Regions from separate parts of the Homo sapiens genome. Here all the other regions are reported to be linked to region 1. The links are microRNA targets in miRTarBase. Many come from high-throughput screens and were not tested one by one. Region 1 holds a microRNA gene; each other region holds the end of a gene's coding sequence.
What was found. Region 1 holds the annotated microRNA hsa-miR-1225-3p (UGAGCCCCUGUGCCGCCCCCAG, at 2,400-2,421, shown strand). A microRNA usually pairs through its seed, bases 2 to 8, with sites in the 3' UTR of a target mRNA and lowers its output. Matches are read on the target gene's strand: a 7mer-m8 pairs with bases 2 to 8, a 7mer-A1 pairs with bases 2 to 7 and ends in A, and an 8mer does both.

Region 1 (5,000 bases):
GCGTGTGACTGATGCTGTGGCAGGTCTGAGGAGCTCTGGCCATGGATGGCCCACGTGCTGCTGCCCTACGTCCACGGGAACCAGTCCAGCCCAGAGCTGGGGCCCCCACGGCTGCGGCAGGTGCGGCTGCAGGAAGGTGAGCTGGCAGGGCGTGCCCCAAGACTTAAATCGTTCCTCTTGTTGAGAGAGCAGCCTTTAGCGGAGCTCTGGCATCAGCCCTGCTCCCTAGCTGTGTGACCTTTGCCCTCTTAACACCGCCGTTTCCTTCTCTGTATATGAGAGATGGTAACGTTGTCTAATTGATGGCTGCTGGGAGGGTTCCCTGGGGTGGCGCCGAACCAGAGCTCAGGCGAGCTGGCCAGCAGGAAACACTCCTGTTGGGTTTTGATGAGGCCCTGGCCCCGGCCTGGGGCTCTGTGTGTTTCAGCACTCTACCCAGACCCTCCCGGCCCCAGGGTCCACACGTGCTCGGCCGCAGGAGGCTTCAGCACCAGCGATTACGACGTTGGCTGGGAGAGTCCTCACAATGGCTCGGGGACGTGGGCCTATTCAGCGCCGGATCTGCTGGGGTGAGCAGAGCGAGGGCCCCGGGCGTCTACGCCAAGGACAAGGGAGTAGTTCTCCAGGAGTGCCGCGGCCTCCTGACCAGCCTGGCTCCGGGGTGCCGGAAGGGCTGGGGTGCGGCACCCACGCCACCCCTCTCCGGCAGGGCATGGTCCTGGGGCTCCTGTGCCGTGTATGACAGCGGGGGCTACGTGCAGGAGCTGGGCCTGAGCCTGGAGGAGAGCCGCGACCGGCTGCGCTTCCTGCAGCTGCACAACTGGCTGGACAACAGGTGGGAGCTCCCTCCCCTGCCCTCTCCGGGGTGGCCGCAGTCACCAGCCAGGAGCCCACCCTCACTCCTCCGGCCCCCGCTGGCCTAGGCGGCTTCCACAGCCCCTCAGCCACGCCTGCACTGCGCGGTCCCCGCAGCTCCCGCCCTGCCACCCGCTCCTACTGACCCGCACCCTCTGCGCAGGAGCCGCGCTGTGTTCCTGGAGCTCACGCGCTACAGCCCGGCCGTGGGGCTGCACGCCGCCGTCACGCTGCGCCTCGAGTTCCCGGCGGCCGGCCGCGCCCTGGCCGCCCTCAGCGTCCGCCCCTTTGCGCTGCGCCGCCTCAGCGCGGGCCTCTCGCTGCCTCTGCTCACCTCGGTACGCCCGTCCCCGGCCAGACCCCGCGCCTCCCACCGGCAGCGTCCCGCCCCCTCGCGGGGCCCCGCCCCGGCAGCGTCTCACCCCTCGCAGCGCCCCGCCCCCTCGCAGCGTCCCGCCCCCTCGCAGGGCCCCGCCCCGGCAGCGTCCCGCCCCCTCGTAGGGCCCCGCCCCGGCAGCGTCCCGCCCCCTCGCAGGGCCCCGCCCCGGCAGCGTCCCTCCCGCCCTCCTGACCGCGCCCCCCACAGGTGTGCCTGCTGCTGTTCGCCGTGCACTTCGCCGTGGCCGAGGCCCGTACTTGGCACAGGGAAGGGCGCTGGCGCGTGCTGCGGCTCGGAGCCTGGGCGCGGTGGCTGCTGGTGGCGCTGACGGCGGCCACGGCACTGGTACGCCTCGCCCAGCTGGGTGCCGCTGACCGCCAGTGGACCCGTTTCGTGCGCGGCCGCCCGCGCCGCTTCACTAGCTTCGACCAGGTGGCGCAGCTGAGCTCCGCAGCCCGTGGCCTGGCGGCCTCGCTGCTCTTCCTGCTTTTGGTCAAGGTGAGGGCTGGGCCGGTGGGCGCGGGGCTGGGCGCACACCCCAGGGCTGCAAGCAGACAGATTTCTCGTCCGCAGGCTGCCCAGCAGCTACGCTTCGTGCGCCAGTGGTCCGTCTTTGGCAAGACATTATGCCGAGCTCTGCCAGAGCTCCTGGGGGTCACCTTGGGCCTGGTGGTGCTCGGGGTAGCCTACGCCCAGCTGGCCATCCTGGTAGGTGACTGCGCGGCCGGGGAGGGCGTCTTAGCTCAGCTCAGCTCAGCTGTACGCCCTCACTGGTGTCGCCTTCCCCGCAGCTCGTGTCTTCCTGTGTGGACTCCCTCTGGAGCGTGGCCCAGGCCCTGTTGGTGCTGTGCCCTGGGACTGGGCTCTCTACCCTGTGTCCTGCCGAGTCCTGGCACCTGTCACCCCTGCTGTGTGTGGGGCTCTGGGCACTGCGGCTGTGGGGCGCCCTACGGCTGGGGGCTGTTATTCTCCGCTGGCGCTACCACGCCTTGCGTGGAGAGCTGTACCGGCCGGCCTGGGAGCCCCAGGACTACGAGATGGTGGAGTTGTTCCTGCGCAGGCTGCGCCTCTGGATGGGCCTCAGCAAGGTCAAGGAGGTGGGTACGGCCCAGTGGGGGGGAGAGGGACACGCCCTGGGCTCTGCCCAGGGTGCAGCCGGACTGACTGAGCCCCTGTGCCGCCCCCAGTTCCGCCACAAAGTCCGCTTTGAAGGGATGGAGCCGCTGCCCTCTCGCTCCTCCAGGGGCTCCAAGGTATCCCCGGATGTGCCCCCACCCAGCGCTGGCTCCGATGCCTCGCACCCCTCCACCTCCTCCAGCCAGCTGGATGGGCTGAGCGTGAGCCTGGGCCGGCTGGGGACAAGGTGTGAGCCTGAGCCCTCCCGCCTCCAAGCCGTGTTCGAGGCCCTGCTCACCCAGTTTGACCGACTCAACCAGGCCACAGAGGACGTCTACCAGCTGGAGCAGCAGCTGCACAGCCTGCAAGGCCGCAGGAGCAGCCGGGCGCCCGCCGGATCTTCCCGTGGCCCATCCCCGGGCCTGCGGCCAGCACTGCCCAGCCGCCTTGCCCGGGCCAGTCGGGGTGTGGACCTGGCCACTGGCCCCAGCAGGACACCCCTTCGGGCCAAGAACAAGGTCCACCCCAGCAGCACTTAGTCCTCCTTCCTGGCGGGGGTGGGCCGTGGAGTCGGAGTGGACACCGCTCAGTATTACTTTCTGCCGCTGTCAAGGCCGAGGGCCAGGCAGAATGGCTGCACGTAGGTTCCCCAGAGAGCAGGCAGGGGCATCTGTCTGTCTGTGGGCTTCAGCACTTTAAAGAGGCTGTGTGGCCAACCAGGACCCAGGGTCCCCTCCCCAGCTCCCTTGGGAAGGACACAGCAGTATTGGACGGTTTCTAGCCTCTGAGATGCTAATTTATTTCCCCGAGTCCTCAGGTACAGCGGGCTGTGCCCGGCCCCACCCCCTGGGCAGATGTCCCCCACTGCTAAGGCTGCTGGCTTCAGGGAGGGTTAGCCTGCACCGCCGCCACCCTGCCCCTAAGTTATTACCTCTCCAGTTCCTACCGTACTCCCTGCACCGTCTCACTGTGTGTCTCGTGTCAGTAATTTATATGGTGTTAAAATGTGTATATTTTTGTATGTCACTATTTTCACTAGGGCTGAGGGGCCTGCGCCCAGAGCTGGCCTCCCCCAACACCTGCTGCGCTTGGTAGGTGTGGTGGCGTTATGGCAGCCCGGCTGCTGCTTGGATGCGAGCTTGGCCTTGGGCCGGTGCTGGGGGCACAGCTGTCTGCCAGGCACTCTCATCACCCCAGAGGCCTTGTCATCCTCCCTTGCCCCAGGCCAGGTAGCAAGAGAGCAGCGCCCAGGCCTGCTGGCATCAGGTCTGGGCAAGTAGCAGGACTAGGCATGTCAGAGGACCCCAGGGTGGTTAGAGGAAAAGACTCCTCCTGGGGGCTGGCTCCCAGGGTGGAGGAAGGTGACTGTGTGTGTGTGTGTGTGCGCGCGCGCACGCGCGAGTGTGCTGTATGGCCCAGGCAGCCTCAAGGCCCTCGGAGCTGGCTGTGCCTGCTTCTGTGTACCACTTCTGTGGGCATGGCCGCTTCTAGAGCCTCGACACCCCCCCAACCCCCGCACCAAGCAGACAAAGTCAATAAAAGAGCTGTCTGACTGCAATCTGTGCCTCTATGTCTGTGCACTGGGGTCAGGACTTTATTTATTTCACTGACAGGCAATACCGTCCAAGGCCAGTGCAGGAGGGAGGGCCCCGGCCTCACACAAACTCGGTGAAGTCCTCCACCGAGGAGATGAGGCGCTTCCGCTGGCCCACCTCATAGCCAGGTGTGGGCTCGGCTGGAGTCTGTGCAGGGGCTTTGCTATGGGACGGAGGGTGCACCAGAGGTAGGCTGGGGTTGGAGTAGGCGGCTTCCTCGCAGATCTGAAGGCAGAGGCGGCTTGGGCAGTAAGTCTGGGAGGCGTGGCAACCGCTCTGCCCACACACCCGCCCCACAGCTTGGGCAGCCAGCACACCCCGCTGAGGGAGCCCCATATTCCCTACCCGCTGGCGGAGCCGCTTGATGTGGCGGAGCCGGGCAATCCACTTGGAGGGGTAGATATCGGTGGGGTTGGAGCGGCTATGATGCACCTGTGAGGCCATCTGGGGACGTAGGCAGGGGGTGAGCTCACTATCAGGTGGCACCTGGGCCTGTCCCACCAGCTCACGCCTGGACCCACCCCCACTCACATTTGCGTGCAGGGCCATCTGGCGGGCCACGAAGGGCAGGTTGCGGTCAGACACGATCTTGGCCACGCTGGTGTCCACAAGGCCCTCCATGTCTGGGGAGACTTGGTGGTCACGCCAGGCCCAGGGCTCTTGGCGCCACACTGCAGGGCCCCACCCGGCCCTACCTTTCCTGCACTGCAGGGCCCCACCCGGCCCTACCTTTCCTGCACTGCAGGGACACCAGGTTGCACTCGTAGTCCAGCGGGGTGACGATCACGTGGACAAAGTTGAACTGGCCCTGCCCGGACAAGAGAAAGGGTCATCCCCGCACACAGCGTGTGCTGAAGGCTGATCTCGGCTACTGCCTGGTTGCACTGCTAGACACCTGTCAGCTCCATGGGCAGCATCTGCCCCTGAACTTTCCCCTCTGGCAGCGGGGCTGTGTTTGTCTGGCCTCCCCCAGGCCAAGCCCCCTCCACATCTGGGCGCAGCACCCACATATGCTGCAGCCACAGGCAAGACACCTCTAATTGCTGGGGCACCTC
Region 2 (5,194 bases), not on the chromosome of region 1:
TTGGTCAACTCTAGAAGTGGTCCCTCCAGGTCACAGTTGAGGCACATGGACGAAGTGGTGTGGAGAAAGCAAGCTCACACTGTCGCTGCCTGTGCTGTACCTGTCCTGATCACCTGCAAAGATCACCGGAGAATTGGACAGCTTGGACCAGTATGGGATGGCCATGCGTTTGGGGGAAGACTCCAACACCACACAGACCTGTCCAACACACTCAATGATGGACTGCGGAATCCCAGCGATAGTGATGGCTCAGTCAGCAGCGTTGGGGAGCATATCCCCTGCCACCTGGACCTGAGCCCTGTACTCTCTCGTATTGCCTTGATCTTGCAACCACCTTTTCCAATGAGCCACAGTGACTAGCAGGGACCACCAGCATCAGGGTGACCAGGGGGTCCACTGGCAGCTGTGCTAGTGGTCACAGAGCTACTGATATCCTCTTCCAATCTTGCTTTGAAGATGGCGCTAGTGGGTCCAGCCAAGATGATAATTCTCTCAGAACAACTCCCTTCTGAGATGCTGATACATGCACCACTCTCCTCATGCATCTTAACTGATTCTCCTCTTTCTGATGATACTGCCAACTTCCTTTCCATGCATAAGTAGCCAGGTGGTGAGAATGACATTTAATCCAATTTCAATCATACCAGTGTCCATATCAAGCAGGGCTATGGGGAGCTGGACTTGGAGTGGTCAAGTCTTTGGCCAGTGGGGATGAAAACCAAGAACTCCAGGCAGGAGGCAACTCAGGGAAAAAGGAGAGCAGGCAGGGTGGGGCAGGGGTGGAACAACAGGGGTGGGCAGAAAGGCAACGAGAAGGAGGAGAAAAGGTGGTGGAGGAAGAGAAAGAAGGGAGAGACCTCAGGGCAGGTGGGAGAGAGCACAGCCTGTAGCTGCTCAGGCTGCTGCCTCTGCTGGTGTCAATCTCAGCTTCCTGTAACTTTTCTGCTTTCTAAACTTTTATTTTTTTAACTTTTTGACTCTTTTCTAATAACTTAGCTTAAAACACAAATACACTGTACAGCTGTACAGAAATATTTTTTCTTTATATCCTTATTCCATAAGCTTTTTTCCATTCAAAAGTTTTGTTTTTTGCTTTTTGTTAAAAACTGAGACACAGCACACACATTAGCCTAGGCCTACACAGGGTCAGAATCATCAATATCTCACTGTCTTCCGCCTCCATATCTTGTCCCGCTAGAAGGTCTTCAGGGACAGTAACACACATGGAACTGTCATCTCCTGTGATGACAATGTCTGCTTCTGGATACCTCTGGAAGGGCCTGCCTGAGACTGTTTTACAGTTCGCTTTTTTGTTACGAGTAGAAGGAATACACTCTAAAATAGCAAAAAATAGGATGTACATAAACCAGTAGCATAGTCATTTATTGTAAGTATTATGTACTGTTCATAGTTGTATGTGCTGGACCTTTAAACTGGCAGCACAGTAGGCGTGTTTTCACCAGCAACACCACAAACACAAGTAACACATGAGGTCTGACCTTAGGATGGCTACCACAGCCTAGGCGATAGGAATTTTTCAGTTCCATACGATCTTATGGACCCCTGTCTACATGCGGTCCGCCAGTGGTATGTCCTTATGTGGTGCATGACTATACACATCCTACTGGTTCTCTCTGGACTGCTCTAATATACTGGGCATATACTGTCTTGTCTGTGTCATCTGTTACTTCTCTATTTCTGTCCTGCATCTTAGGACACCAACTCAAGTTAGTCCTCCACATAATGGCTTTGTATTATACCCTATTTTATATATATGTAATATATATACAACTTAGATCACATACTATTTGTTGTTATTTTATATAATACAGATTTTAAAGTTGAAGTTTTGCTTCTGTTAAAATCTTTTCCATGAAATTTTTTAAATTTCCTTTCAGCTAGCTGCTGCTTCTCATACATCTCATTATTTGCTTTTGGAAAAAGCAGGGGTTCCTGACTTTTAAAAAATAGCTGTTTCCTACAGTCATGTTTTTCAACAGAATGCTCTTCTTCTGCATTTTTAATGCTGTTTCTATCCTTCGTATTGCTTGTTTTCTTCAGCTACTCTCCTTTGAATGGGAAACCTACCCAGGCCTGATGTCTGCTCCGGCTAGACTCGAACTCCTGGGCTCAAGCGATCCTCCTGCCCCAGCATCCCAGGTAGCTGGGACTACGGATAAGCACCGCTGTGCCTGGCTTGGTATCTGGCCCTAACGTGGCTCTGCTGCACTGACAGCCAACCTCCTGCACCTGCTGCCTGCTTCTTATCACAAGAAGAGGTTTACTCCTGGACAGTCTGAAGCAATTATGATTCTTTCCTTACCAAAATTATTAAAAACTACAATGCCCAGAGTTATCTGCTTCTAGGGTTCTCCCAGGATTACTGCCGATGCAAAACTTGTCCCCCAACTACTTCCACTCTTAGCCATTTGACACTGCCAAGCTCTGTGGTTCTCAAGTTAGCAAGAGGAAGTACAAGAAGGAATGAAGACTGACAGCTCCAGCTGCCCCCAGAGCAGCTCCCCACTCCTTTCTTACCACATCACCGTCAGCATCTTTGAGGTGGGGCACACAAAGGTGTGTCAACATGGAAATACCACCTTACAGTTCTTCAAAAGCATTCTTATATCATTATTCTCACAATTCAGCAAAGCAAGCAGAGAATTTCCTTCATTAAGCAGATGAAAACCTGGACCCCAAGGGAAGTAGATAACCACCCAGGGAGTACTGTCACCAGTATTATCTGTAGTTTACAGCTGAGAAAACTGTTGCTCAGGAAGCTTCAAGGCATCTGCCCAAAGTCACCTGGCCTGTAAGGGCTGGCCTGGGATTGAACATAGTCTGCTTTTCCAAGATCACTCTTCCTTACTTACCACACTGACCCTCAGCACAAGAAGAGGATTAGCTCCAGCTAGGACCAGATTCCAGGTCATATGATGTTACCTCAGGGCTCTGCAGGCACATTTCTGAATGAATGAAAACTTTTTTTGCAACAAGGGAAATGCTTAGATTTCTGCCTTCGGGATATATTCATAAGCATACTATGCACAAGACTTCCAATTCTTGATTATGTAAAGGAAACCAAGTTTACTCAAGAAGGAGTTAGAACACAGTATCTCCTTACCATACTTCTAATCATTACCAAAAACAGTAAATGAACTGGAACTAGAAAATATAAATGGGTAAGTACTCTAAATCTATAGTATGTAAATGATTCAATAACTAAAAAGGTGAAAAAGAAAGCAGAAGAGATAAGAAGCATTTAACTCCACCATTTTAAAATTTATTTTCATGAATGCAGTTCAGTTTGTGGTCCTGTGAAGTTGTGTGGCTACTCCGGGTTCATGATTCCATTCACACTCCTAATGATAACACATGACTGTAAGAGAACTGCTGACACGCGCAGAGCCAGCCTTGAAAGAGAGCCCTGGGAAAGTCTGGGTGAAGAGGCTATCTGTCAGATATTACTAAAAAGTGAGGACATACACATTTCTGTTTCATTTTTAGTAAATATATAATTTTGTTACTTTGTCATCAATTTTTACCCACAAGATAAAAAAAACTGCAGGACTCCTAAAATATCCAGAAACTTTCCACATATTAAGAATCACCAACAGGTCAATGAATAGTTACACCTAATTAACTACACTTTGCCACATGAATACCATCTGCTGATATCTGTAGCTTTGAAAAATTTAACTAAAGTTGGGCACAGTGGCTCACACCTGTAATCCCAGCATTTTGGGAGGCCGAGGCGGGGGAAATGCTTGAGCCCAGGAGGTCGAGGATGCAGTGAACCATGATAGCACACTGCACTTCAGCCTGGGCAACAGAGCAAGACCCAGCCTCAAAAAATAAATAAATAAATAAATAAGATAAAAATTTAACTATAGTACCTTAAAATATTCAAATACAACAATACTCCCACCTAGTGGATAAAAGGAAAATGCTTGGCTTATTTTGGTTGTGAATAATACCACCATAAATAAGGAATTAAAACTACAATTAATTTTTTACAATTTTATTCCGTTTCATCATTCTCAAAATATATCCCCCAAAAGTAATCTACAAAAGAGTGCAGGCTGCTCCCCTTAAAGGAATGGACAAGTAATATACACTACAAAACAATGTTTAAGATCATGTATAAATGTTACTCTGAATCTCATTTGTTGTCATCAATTTCTTTAGTATCTCAGTGCTTTGGGGAATATTCTGAAAGGAGAGAAAAAAGTGAATACAGTGAGACCCCAGGGATTCAGGCAGAGGCAACACCCCTCCCTCCACGACCAACAATCTCCACACTCGAGACTTAAAAACAGCCATGGGACAGGCGTGGCCTTTACTCTCCTTCTCAACGAAAAGGCAAGTGGGAAAGTCAGTTCAACAGGCCCTTTCCCTGCCACACTCGCCGATGATCTCCTGGCCTCCGATGGTCTCCTGGCCTCTGGAGGAAGTCTATGCTCTAACCCGCCCGACCTTCCCCACAAGATGTCTTCCTCCCCTCTCCACCAACACCACACTCCTCACGGCTCTCCTCACACTTTCCCACTCTGCTCACACTGCTTCCCTCTGCACACTTCTACCCAAGATTCATCCATCTTTCAAATCCAACTAAACTGCCACACAGGAAGAACTCAAAATAATTCCACCTTATTGAAAATACCACTTTTAAAAGGTCAGAAACAACGAACTGACTCAGGCTGATGTAATTGGTCATTAAGAAAACAGCACCCTGCAGAACCACCATCTTACCCTCCTGCTAATCATTATCTCCAAAGCAAAAATGAAAATGCTGAGTTAAATTTCCCCTTGAAAGTATATTCATAAAAGCTGAGTTTCCTTAAGCCCCATATGACAGATGATTTCCAAGTCTCTGAACAAGTCCAAGCGTTTATGACACACCTGTGTGCTACACACAGTCCTACAGCAGTAAACAAAACAGCCCAGCCCCTGCCCATGGGAACTCATCTCTGAGTTAAGTGGGATGAGGCAATTGGCTATTTAAACAAACAAGACGATCAGCATATACTTTGAAAGAGATGCTAAAAATAAATTAACTCCATGTGTCAGAAAGATTACCCTGGATTCTAGCTAATTTGCAAGATAAGCTTGCAGTATACTAAATCAGAGTTTTACAGCTGTACTCTTCAACAAATGGTTATTGATGGCTTTATTCAACATGCCAGGTATGTGG
Region 3 (5,194 bases), not on the chromosome of region 1:
GAAAGAAAGAAAACAAAAGATCCCTGGGAATTCACAGAAACCTTGGGGGTGATTACCAGACTTTCTGAAACATTTGGAAGGGGGAAGATGATGTAACTCCAGCCGATATCTGCATTACAATATATATTATTTCATTTTAATATTACAACAGAAAAGAAACAGAAGATCAGAAAGGTGAAGTGACTTGCCCAAGATTATTCAGCTAAATAGCAGTGCAGGAATCTTAAATCAGCTATTTCTGACTCCAGAAACCATATTTTTTCCAAGACCCAGCACAACTGAGGAGAAAACGTGGCAACAAGTGTGTACTCAGTTAGGTAATGGTTCAAAGAATTGAGCAAATGCTTCATAGAGAAAGTGACAGCTAATTTGGTATTTTGATATCAGATAATCTTATGGAGAGACCAAAGGCAGACCAGGAGAAAGGGGATTGAACAAAAAGTTTTAGGGTGAGGAGTTGTCCTGGGAACATAGAGTACATCAAGCTTCACTGGAGATTAGGGTGTGGAAGGAGTGTATTGGAAGATAAGGTCTGCAAAGGCCAGAATGTGGTTAAGGAATTTGGGCTTTATCATGAGAAAGTGGGGAGTATTAACCCACAGAATAATGTGGTCAGAACACATTTTTAGGAAGATCATTTGGGAAGCCAGGGTCAGGGTTACCAGATGGATTTGTTGTAGTAGGACCAGTCAAGGGTTCCCTCCAAAGCAACGTAGTATCTCTGAAACCCTGAAAGTGTGAGGTTAAACCCTGCCCTGATCAAAATGTTCACAAAACAGCCACTAGTTGGCAGGAATGTGCCAATGAATGGATGAGCCAGACTCCCAACTAGCAGCTTCTGTTCTCTCACTCCTTGAGCTGTGGTGGGGTGTGATCACCTAGTGGATAACAGGAGTAGGTGGGAGGGCAGTCTCTTCGGAGGAAACTTCAGAGGCCCAGAGGAGAAGGAGAACGTGATCAGAGAACAGAGTGGATGGATGGCTGGAGGATAGGGTTGGGGTTGAGTGGGGGCAGTGGTGAGGTCGAGAGCTTGATCATGAATGACTTGAATTTTCAGGTTAAGAAACACAGACATTATCCTGAGAGAAATGAGGAACCCAGGAAGGTTTTTAAGTAGGAGAGAGACATAACTAGATTTGAATTTTAGGAAGATCATCGATTGCAGTGTGGAGAATGAGGAGGAAGCAGGAAGCACAGAGATCAGTGAGAAGGCAGTTGCAGTGATCCTGGGAGAGGTGATGAGTGGCCAGCAGTAGGCCCAGCAATTGCAATGGACAGACGGACCAGAACTGTAGGAGACTTATGAAATAAAAATCACAGAATGAAAAAGGGGTCATTAAAAATGTAGTTGACAGAAAAGAATGATATCCTTTCCCTATTATTAAATACATCCTGAATTGTCAGATCGTCTACCTAAAATTGCACTGTAAGAATTCAGATTTCAGAACTTCTTGGCTTCTAAATTCTACTTCATTCATTCAATAATCCTGACCAGAGTCTGTGGTGGGAAGTGGGGACCAAGGAATGGCTCAGTCCTGTTCCTGCGGCAGCTGCCCTACCCCCCCAACCCCCGCCCTCGTCCCCGCCCCCGCCCCCAATGTGGTGGAAAGACACTCAATTCCGGTACAGCGTGGAGAGCGCTTTGATGGAGGAAATACAAGCCGATGTAGTGTTCCCGGGAAAACCTGATCCAGAAGGCTTCCAGGGAGAGGAGATTTTGCGCCTAAGATTTCAAATGAAAGATCTCATAACACTGTCAGTGAAACAACTAAGCACTGCTGGGAAAAGATGGTGGCCTGGAGAACAGTCCCGTTATCTATTTACCCCTTTTCGTCAGAAACCGTAGACGTCACCTTACGCGGGATAGGAACCCGGGTGAGCTACGTCCCCAGGGATGCCCAGCGATACACAAGTCACCGTCACCCCCTCCAGAGTAAACCGCATCGCCTGGCAAGCAGGCGCCCAGGTCGTCCCCAAGGGCCAGCGCCTGGAACCGCCAGGGTGTGATTGGTGGAGTCTTGGAGCCCGCCCCTCGTCGGGCCCAACAATGCGCCTCTGATTGGTGGAGAAACCACCTGGCCCCGCCCATCCCCAATCGTGTCCGTGCGCCGCCGGTGGCCCGGCTTAGGGGACCGCTGTGAGGTCTGGAGAGGATGCGCCATCGACCCCGGCAGTAGGCGGCCGAACCTTGGCCCCAAATCTTCTACCCCGGGGTGGATTGCGGCCCCTAGAGGAAAGGCGTCAGGGGACCGACCGGCAGCTGTGCCGTCGCGGCACTCTGGACCACGCTGAGGGCGGGCCGGCTTCCCTGCGCCTGCGCTGACATTTTGCAGTTTGGGAAATGGCGGTGCTCGGGGACGTCGATACTGACCCAGGGCGGGAGGCAGCTGCGAGTGGATTGTCGGGCCTTTTCAGACCGGGGTCTGAACCTCTGGGCCGGGGCGGGGCTCGGGTGCTGCCTGGCTCTGCCAACGTTCTGGGCCCTCGAGTGTGAATGAGCTCCGCCCGCCATCCGCCTTGTAGTCCTCGCGTCCGGCCACCGGCGCGGGGCTCCCACCCATCCCCACCCCACCCCACCCCACCCCACCCCGTCTGTTTCCTTTCTGGTCCAGTGGGGACAGCCCTGAGTGAGCAGCGTCGTAGGAGTAAGATACCTGGGCCCCCGGCCTCTCCTTCTTGCCCTGCCCCCGCACCCCCTCCCGCACGGGGACCCGGATAACTCCTTTCAACAGAAGTCTTTTGGGAGCACACGATAAGGCTTCCTTTCATCTGGCCTCAGCCCTTCACCAGTTAACCGCCCTGTCCCCAGGCTCAGGCAGGGCATATTCTTCGCAACCTGCTCTTCTTTGTTGAGATGCAGATGGATGTCCTCATAGATTCTTTATACCTAATGGTAATACATATAGGTATTTCCATTTGCTAAGTACCAGTTTTCCTTTCTCACACCCTTCTTACAACCCCTCTTCATGTCAGGGAGAAAAAAGCCTGCCTGTAGTTACAAAAGCAAACTTCTCCCAGATTTTGTCAGCTGAGCCTCTAGAGACAAATATCTTTGGTGTTTTATTTCCTCCAGTATTTTCTGAGTGCCTGCTGTGCATCAAGCACTGTACTGAATAGTGCTGAGGACCCACAGGAACCAAATCGGCATCTTCTCATGAAATTCAGACTAGTGGCAGAAAACTGGACTTGTGATGAAGGAGCAGATGAAGTGCTCTGGAAATTCAGGGGTGAAGGAGGAGGATGAGCTGTCTTTAGAGATGAAGCAGTAGTATACAGAGGAACCAGAGGGGGCAATTCCAAATGAAATGAACACAGGGCAGCTTGACAGCTCATTGGGCCCATACAAAGAACGTGGTTCATTTTGTGTGTGTGGGGAGGGGTGCAGGAGGTGGGTGGAGTTAATGGAGTAGTGGTTGTATGGTACCATTGTTAAAAGCAGGTGTTTTAGCTTATTCACTGTGCGACTTCAGGCACATAACCTCTTTGAGCCTGTCCAATAAAGGTACAGTATTTACTTCACATTCAAAATAATGCATTTCAAGCCTGAGCATCACGGCTGGCACAAAACTAGTGTTTTTTTGAACACCAACTATCAAATATGTGATAGAAATGCCTTGAATGTCAAGATAAAGAATGTATATATTCTCTGGGTAACAGGGATCAAACAGATTTTTGAGCAAGAGGACACTGATGAGAGGTACGTGTAAGGGACTGGATCCTGAGTCGAAGTCTAAGCCGTTGCAGTGGTTGCAACCCCACTTACTTCTGTCTCACTCCCATCCAAACCTCCTACCCTCAATCCACAAGCATTTCAAAACCATGTTTCTAAAAACCAGCCATTTATATCTGTTTAGGTAAGTAACAGGAGTGAGGTGGTGTATTTACAAGTTGGCTTGTCCAGATATACTATAACTTAGTGTCTGTATTTAATATTGACAACCAAAAATATATATAAATATCTTGCATCTATACACAACAGGGCAGGAGTCTCCATGTCTTCTTGAGCAGTGAGTTTGCAGGCTCCCACAGGCCCTCTTCTCATGGTAATAGTGTGGCCCTCAGTGCAAAGGAGACTAGAACCCGGCAGCCCAGACTGGCCCTTCCCCTCTCCTCCCTGCACTCCAGTGCTCCCAACTGGTCTCAGGTAAAGAAAGATTAATTTGAGTGGTTGGGTAGGAAGAGATGGGAAGGGGCAAATCCTAATGGAGCCTGACCCCTAGAGTGGGGAGATCCAGGCCAGCAGAACGGGTGGCCATAGCCACCTCCTGGGATAGAAGCTTTGTAGTTCATAGTTCGATTAGTGTGTCCTTAGGACATAGGTCCAGCCCTACAGATTAGCTGGGTGAAGAAGGCAAGTGTCTCGACAGGGCTTAGTCTCCACCCTCAGGCATGGAACCATTCAGGGTGAAGCCTGGGATGTGGGCACAGGAGACTCAGGCTGATATAAAAATAACAAAATCAGTAATAAAAAAATTATAAAACCTGTTGCTTGTCTGAATAGATTTGAGCAACAGTCTTGCTTTTGTTAAAATCCTGGAGCCGTTAAGTCCTGAATATTCTTCTGGACATCATTGCTGGCTGGAGAAAGGAGCCCCAGGCCCGGCTCGGCTGACATCTGTCAGGTTTGGAAGTCTCATCCAGCTGCCTGTGCTCCTGAGAGATCCTTAGGGCTGCTGGGAGCAGGCCGGGCTGGTGATCTGGGGCGACTCACACTTGGGAATCAGCCCCCAGGGGATGGAACAGCTCCTCGGGTGTCTTGTCACTTTGGCTGGCTCCCCCCTGCCGGAAGCCGGAAGCGATCTCATCGAAGGTCCGGCCTTTAGTCTCAGGAACTTTGAAGTAGGTGAAGATGAAGAACAGAACCAGGAGCACAGTGAAGATGATGAAGACGTAGGGACCACACAGTTGCTGAAAGACACACAGACACACTTGGTTGGAGTCATGACCCTACATCCTGGCTGTAGGACTTTGGATAAGTCACTTTACCTTTGGGCCTTTGAGCTGAAAAGGGAACATCCACCTACCCAGGGATGCTATCATAATTAACTGAGACCACGCTTGTACCTAGAATGTAACAGGCTCCAGGAGCACCATTCAAGGCTAAGGGGAGAACCCTGGAGTTGAGGTCAGCATTCTTGGTCATGTGACCTGGGCTTCCTACCCTCAGTTTCCTCCTCAGCATGATTCCTAATGA
Region 4 (5,194 bases), not on the chromosome of region 1:
GCCTGGGTTCCCTGTCCACAGGAAGAAGAACTTGGATTCAGAGAAAGGGCTGCAGAGCCCTTGACAGCTGACAAGCCCGCCACTTAAACACTACTCCCGGGATTTGGCGCTCACTATGTGTGTATTTTTCAAGACATAACTCACATACCTTCACAACCTTCACAGCTCAGTGGCTTAAATATATATATGTCACCCAGGGAGGTCAGTTCACAGCTAACTGGAGCCTCAAACTCCCAGGTTCAGTTAATCCTCCCACCTCAGCCTTCCCAGTAGCTGGAACCACAGGCACACAACACCATGCTCCGGCTAATTTTTAAAATTTATTTAATTAATTTTTTTTTAAGATGGAGTCTCCTTTGTTGTCCAGGCTGGAGTGCAGTGGCGTGATCTGGGCTCACTGCAACCTCCGCCTCCTGGGTTCAAGCGATTCTCCTGCCTCAGCCTCCCAAGTAGCTGGGATTACAGGCATGTGCCCCACGGCCAGCTAATTTTTGTATTTTTAGTAGGGACGGGGTTTCACCATGTTGGCTTGGCTGGTCTCAAATTCCTGATCTCAAGTGATCCACCCGCCTTGGCCTCCCAAAGTGCTGGGATTACAGGCATGTGCCACCGTGCCTGGCACCCCCGCCAATTTTTTTTTTGTTTTTTTTGAAACGGAGTTTTCACTCTTGTTGCCCAGGCTGGAGTACAATGGCTCGATCTTGGCTCACCGCAACCTCCACCTCCTGGGTTCAAGTGATTCTCCTGCCTCAGCCTCCTGAGTAGCTGGGATTACAGGCATGTGCCACCACACCTGTCTAATTTTGTATTTTTAGTAGAGATAGGGTTTCTCCACGTTGGTGAGGCTGGTCTCGAACTCCTGACCTCAGGTGATCCACCCACCTCAGCCTCCCAAAGCGCTGGGATTGCAGGTGTGAGCCACTGCGCCCGGCTGGCCAATTTTTAAAAATGTATTTTTTATAGAAACAGGATCTTGCTATGTTGCCCAGGCTGATCTCTAACTCCTGGGAGGATCAAGCAAATCTCCTGCCTTGGCCTCCTAAAGTATTGGGATTACAGGCGTGAGCCACCGTGCCTGGCTATTTTTTTTTTTTTTTGAGACATGGAGTCTCACCCTGTCGCCCAGGCTGGAGTGCAATGGCGTGATCTCTGCTCACTGCAACCTCCACCTCCTGGGTTCAAGCAATTCTTCTGCCTCAGCCTCCCTAGTAGCTGGGACTACAGGCACCTACCACCATGCCCAGCTAATTTTTGTATTTTTAGTAGAGATGAGGTTTCACCAACTTGGCCAGGCTGGTCTCGAACGCCTGACCTCGCGATCTACCTGCCTTGGCCTCCCAAAGTGCTGGGATTACAGGCATGAGCCACTGCGCCCAGCTGCTAATTTTTAAAAATATAGTTTTTGAGGCTGGGTGTAGTGACTTACGGCGGTAATCCCAGCACTTTGGGAGGCCGAGGTGGGCAGGTCACTTGAGGTCATGAGTTCGAGACCAGCCTGGCGAACATGGTGAAACCCTGTCTCGACTAAAATTACAAAAATTAGCCGGGTGTGGTGGAACGTGCTTGTAATCCCAAGTACTCGGGAGGCTGAGGCAGGAGAATGACTTGAACCCGGGAGGCGGAGGTTGCAGTGAGCTGAGATCGCACCACCGCACTACAGCGTGGATGACAGAGTGAGACTCTGTCTCAAAAAAAATATAATAAAAATATATTTCTTGTAGAGACAGGGTCTCACTGTGTTGCCCAGCCTGGTCTTGAACTCCTGGCTCAAGGGATCCTCCTGCCTCAGCCTCCCAAAGTGCCCAGATTACAGGCATGAGCCACAGCGCCCAACAGCTTTTAGTATATCAACAAGGTTGTGCAACCATCACCAATTCCAGAACCTTCTTACTTCCCCAAAACGAAACACTACACCCATTAAACGGTAACTCTCCATTCTCCCGTCCCCAGTGACGACTAAGCTACTTCTTGTTTCCATGGTTTTGCCCGTAATGGACATTTCATAGGATGCAGTCACACAACATGTGACCTTTTGTGTCTGGCTTTTGTTACTTTTTCAAGGTTCCTCCTCGACTGTGATTGCTTCATTCCTTTTCACAGTTGAGTAATATTCCATCCTGTGAACGTATCACACTTTCATTCATCAGTGGATGCAGAATTTGTTTTTTTCCACTGTGGGGCTACTGTAAATAATGCTGCCATGAGCATCCGTGCGCAGGCTTCTGTGGGCACATTTTCAATTCTCTTGAGAATGTACCTAGGAGTGGAACTGTGGTCATATGCTAATGCTGCTTTCTGAGGTTCTGTTTGCCAAAGTGGCTGCATTTTACATTCCCAGTAGCAGTGGATGAGGGTCCCATTTCTCGACATCCTCTCCAACACTGCTTTTTGTTTTAGTATAGCCATCGTAATGGGTGTAGTGTGGCATCTCATGGTTTTGTTTTTATATATATTTTTTGAGACGGAGTCTTGCTCTGTCGCCAGGCTGGAGTACAGTGGCGTGATCTCGGCTCACTGCAACCTCTGCCTTCCGGGTTCAAGCAATTCTCCTGCCTCAGCCTCCCAAGTTAGCTGGAATTGTAGGTGCACACCACCATGCCCAGCTAATTTTTGTATTTTTAGTAGAGGGGGTTTCACCACGTTGGCCAGGCTGGTCTCGAACTCCTGACCTTGTGATCCTCCCGCCTCAGCCTCCCAAAGTGCTGGGATGACAGGCCTGAGCCACTGTACCCGGCCAACACTGGGGTCTTCTAGAGAGACCTCACTACCCTTTTTACCCTGGACCAACTTACCATTAGGCACAGTGCCCTGGGCCCACACTATAAGAGCTGACATACATTTTTAATTTCTTTTAAAATCAGAAGGGAAAAAAATGAACCTTTAGGTGAGAGAAAATCCTCTAGTATACATTAATATATTCATCTTTATACCAACATGTTGTAAAATAGGTTTAACAGAGAAAGGGGCTCACCAAGGCCAAAGTGCCTCTGCTTTCCACAGCCATGAATGAGGTGGCCCTACCGTCCCCCTCTGGTCCCAGGCCCAAACTACTCCTCCCGGACAAGCAGCAAGATCTTGACTGGGGATATCTGATCCTCCTTCCAAGAGGAGGAAGAATTAGAACTTTGAGAATGGTGTCAGATCAACCCTGGCCTGGATTCCACCTACCTAGCCAAGCATTCAATCTGTCTCTTTTTATTATGATTTTACAGATGGGATCTTGCTCTGTTGCCCAGGCTGGAGTGCAGTGGTGCAATCATAGCTCACTGCAGCCTTGAGCTCCTGGGCTCAAGCGATCCTCCCGCCTCAGCCTCCCGACCGCTGGGACTACAGACAGGTGCCACCATGCCTGGCTTATTTATTTATTTTTTTGAGACGGAATCTCGCTCTGTGGCTCAGGCTGGAGTGCAGTGGCACGACCTTGGCTCACTGCAACCTCCACCTCCCAGGTTCGAATGATTCTCCTGCCTCAGCCTTCTGAGTAGCTGGGATTACAGCTGCATGCCACCACGCCTGGCTAATTTTCGTATTTTCAGTAGAGACGATGTTTTGCCATGTTGGCCAAGCTGGTCTCAAATTCCTGACCTCAGGTGATCCACCTGTCTCAGCCTCCCAAAAGTGCTAGGATTAGAGGCGTGAGCCACTGCACCTGGCCTAATTTTTTTTTTAGAGATGAGGTCTTGCAATTTTGCTCAGGCTGGTCTCAAATGTCTGGACTACAGTGAGCCTCCTGTCTCGACCTTCTGAGCAGCTGGGATAACAGGCATGCGTCACCATGCCTGGTTCAAGTCATTGCACCTTTGAACCTGTTTCCACATCAGTAAAACAGAGACAGCAGCTCCAATCCTAAGTGAATGGCATTTTGTGAACCACAACCCCAGGGCCACAAAGGTGACAGCTGGTGCTCTGGGGTGACAGCCTCTGGCATGGCAGGGAGATCAGTGTAGGGCATGTGGAGGCCGCACAGCCCAGTACCGTGGGCTCCTCCATGCCTGGCTGTGGCCTGTTCTTCAGTTATCAAATGGGAGCCGATGAGCCCATGGAACCCCCTCTTGCTCTGATGCAGGAAGTGGGGGGGGGCACACACACACACAAGTGCGCACACACGCATGCATGCACACACTCAGGACCTGCTGGCTTTGGCTATAGAGCATTTATTGCAAACAAAATTGAGGTAAAAGAAGCTGACCCAGAACCCACGCCCGTCCAGGCTGGGGAAGTCTCTACTCGCCCCACACCAGGCCCCGAGCACCGCGGGCCCGAAGCAGCCCCCAGAGGACAGACGGGCCCTGCGCACTGAGGTAGCTGCATCCTAAGCCCCCATGAGTACAACTGCCCAGGGCTGCCCAATTCCCAGAGGGGAGGAGGAGAGAGAGGCAGGCAGGGGGAGCCCCGGCTTCAGGTGGGGCACACCCCACACCCTCAACAAACCTCCCAGCCTCTCGGGCTGGGCACTTCCTGCCTGGCCACCCAGCCAGCCATGGGGCAGCGGGGTGGCCACCAGAGGCGGGCGTGCTGGGGTGCGAGGTCACTGCTGCTCCAGGCAGTCCTCGGTCACCCCCTGGGCAGCCAGCTCAGCCAGCACGTTCTGCAGGTAGTTGGGGTCGGGATAGCCGTGGCCCGTAATGTTGCGGTCCATCTCTGTCTTGTGGTGGATCTCGTTCCATACCACGGTGTCCGTCTCACCCGTGGTGCTGGACGTGCCCACTGTGAAGATGAGCCGCCTCTTCCAGGCCACCTTCAGGAGCTCTAGGACCTGCCCGGGGAGGAGGAGGGGGAAGAGGAAGGAGGGGACGGAGAGTGAGAGGGGCTCAGTGAGCAGGCACGGGTTGGCACCATGTTCTTCCCATCCCAGCCCCTCCCAGGTGACTCATCCACTCCCTGGCACTCACCCCATCTGCAGGGACCCCAAAACTGCCCACTGGATAGTACATTAGGATCCCACATGAACCTGGGCTCCAGCCCACCCCGCCTCAGTGCCTGGCACTGCCATCCGTTTGGTCCTGATGCCCAGGCACCATGCTCGAGTCCTCCCTGCTTCCACAGCCGTTGCTGGACGAGCGCCCGCCCACCCACCCTCCCTGGTGGAATCCAGGCCTCCCTGCCCTCTCCCTGCCCTCTCCCCGCCTCCAGCTCCGCCACCTCAAGCCCATTCTCACACGGCCAGAGCTTTTCCAAAGCTCCATCAGCAGCT

Region 2: miRTarBase lists PSMG1 as a target of hsa-miR-1225-3p. Seed matches in the 3' UTR shown: 7mer-A1 at 3,769-3,775.
Region 3: miRTarBase lists SLC2A1 as a target of hsa-miR-1225-3p. Seed matches in the 3' UTR shown: 7mer-m8 at 4,589-4,595.
Region 4: miRTarBase lists DTX2 as a target of hsa-miR-1225-3p. Seed matches in the 3' UTR shown: 7mer-m8 at 4,388-4,394.

Annotation. Positions count from the first base shown.
Region 1 is chr16:2,087,616-2,092,615 of GRCh38, reverse strand. It overlaps MIR1225 (microRNA 1225), which reads left to right and starts at 2,332; the gene lies at 2,332-2,421. TSC2 (TSC complex subunit 2) reads right to left here. Exons shown (of 42, transcript NM_000548.5): 39 at 4,675-4,753; 40 at 4,477-4,568; 41 at 4,291-4,389; 42 at 3,125-4,170. The coding sequence ends at 4,006. PKD1 (polycystin 1, transient receptor potential channel interacting) reads left to right here. Exons shown (of 46, transcript NM_001009944.3): 39 at 24-136; 40 at 428-569; 41 at 710-835; 42 at 1,019-1,193; 43 at 1,442-1,732; 44 at 1,808-1,942; 45 at 2,026-2,331; 46 at 2,422-3,908. The coding sequence ends at 2,889. PKD1-AS1 (PKD1 antisense RNA 1) reads right to left here and starts at 1,180. Exons shown (of 3, transcript NR_135175.1): 1 at 1,002-1,180.
Region 2 is chr21:39,171,453-39,176,646 of GRCh38, forward strand. PSMG1 (proteasome assembly chaperone 1) reads right to left here. Exons shown (of 7, transcript NM_003720.4): 7 at 3,317-4,212. The coding sequence ends at 4,138. It also overlaps the pseudogene PCBP2P1. Among named protein-coding and RNA genes, the nearest start is that of PSMG1, 9.4 kb to the right of the region's middle.
Region 3 is chr1:42,922,334-42,927,527 of GRCh38, forward strand. SLC2A1 (solute carrier family 2 member 1) reads right to left here. Exons shown (of 10, transcript NM_006516.4): 10 at 3,020-4,908. The coding sequence ends at 4,708. Among named protein-coding and RNA genes, the nearest start is that of SLC2A1, 34 kb to the right of the region's middle. RefSeq lists enhancers at 934-1,053, 1,710-1,839, 2,260-2,349, 4,721-5,194.
Region 4 is chr7:76,504,936-76,510,129 of GRCh38, reverse strand. DTX2 (deltex E3 ubiquitin ligase 2) reads right to left here. Exons shown (of 11, transcript NM_001102594.3): 11 at 4,139-4,756. The coding sequence ends at 4,529. LOC124901675 (a long non-coding RNA gene) reads left to right here. Exons shown (of 2, transcript XR_007060388.1): 2 at 22-1,949. Among named protein-coding and RNA genes, the nearest start is that of UPK3B, 3.0 kb to the left of the region's middle. RefSeq lists an enhancer at 1-113 and a silencer at 991-1,196.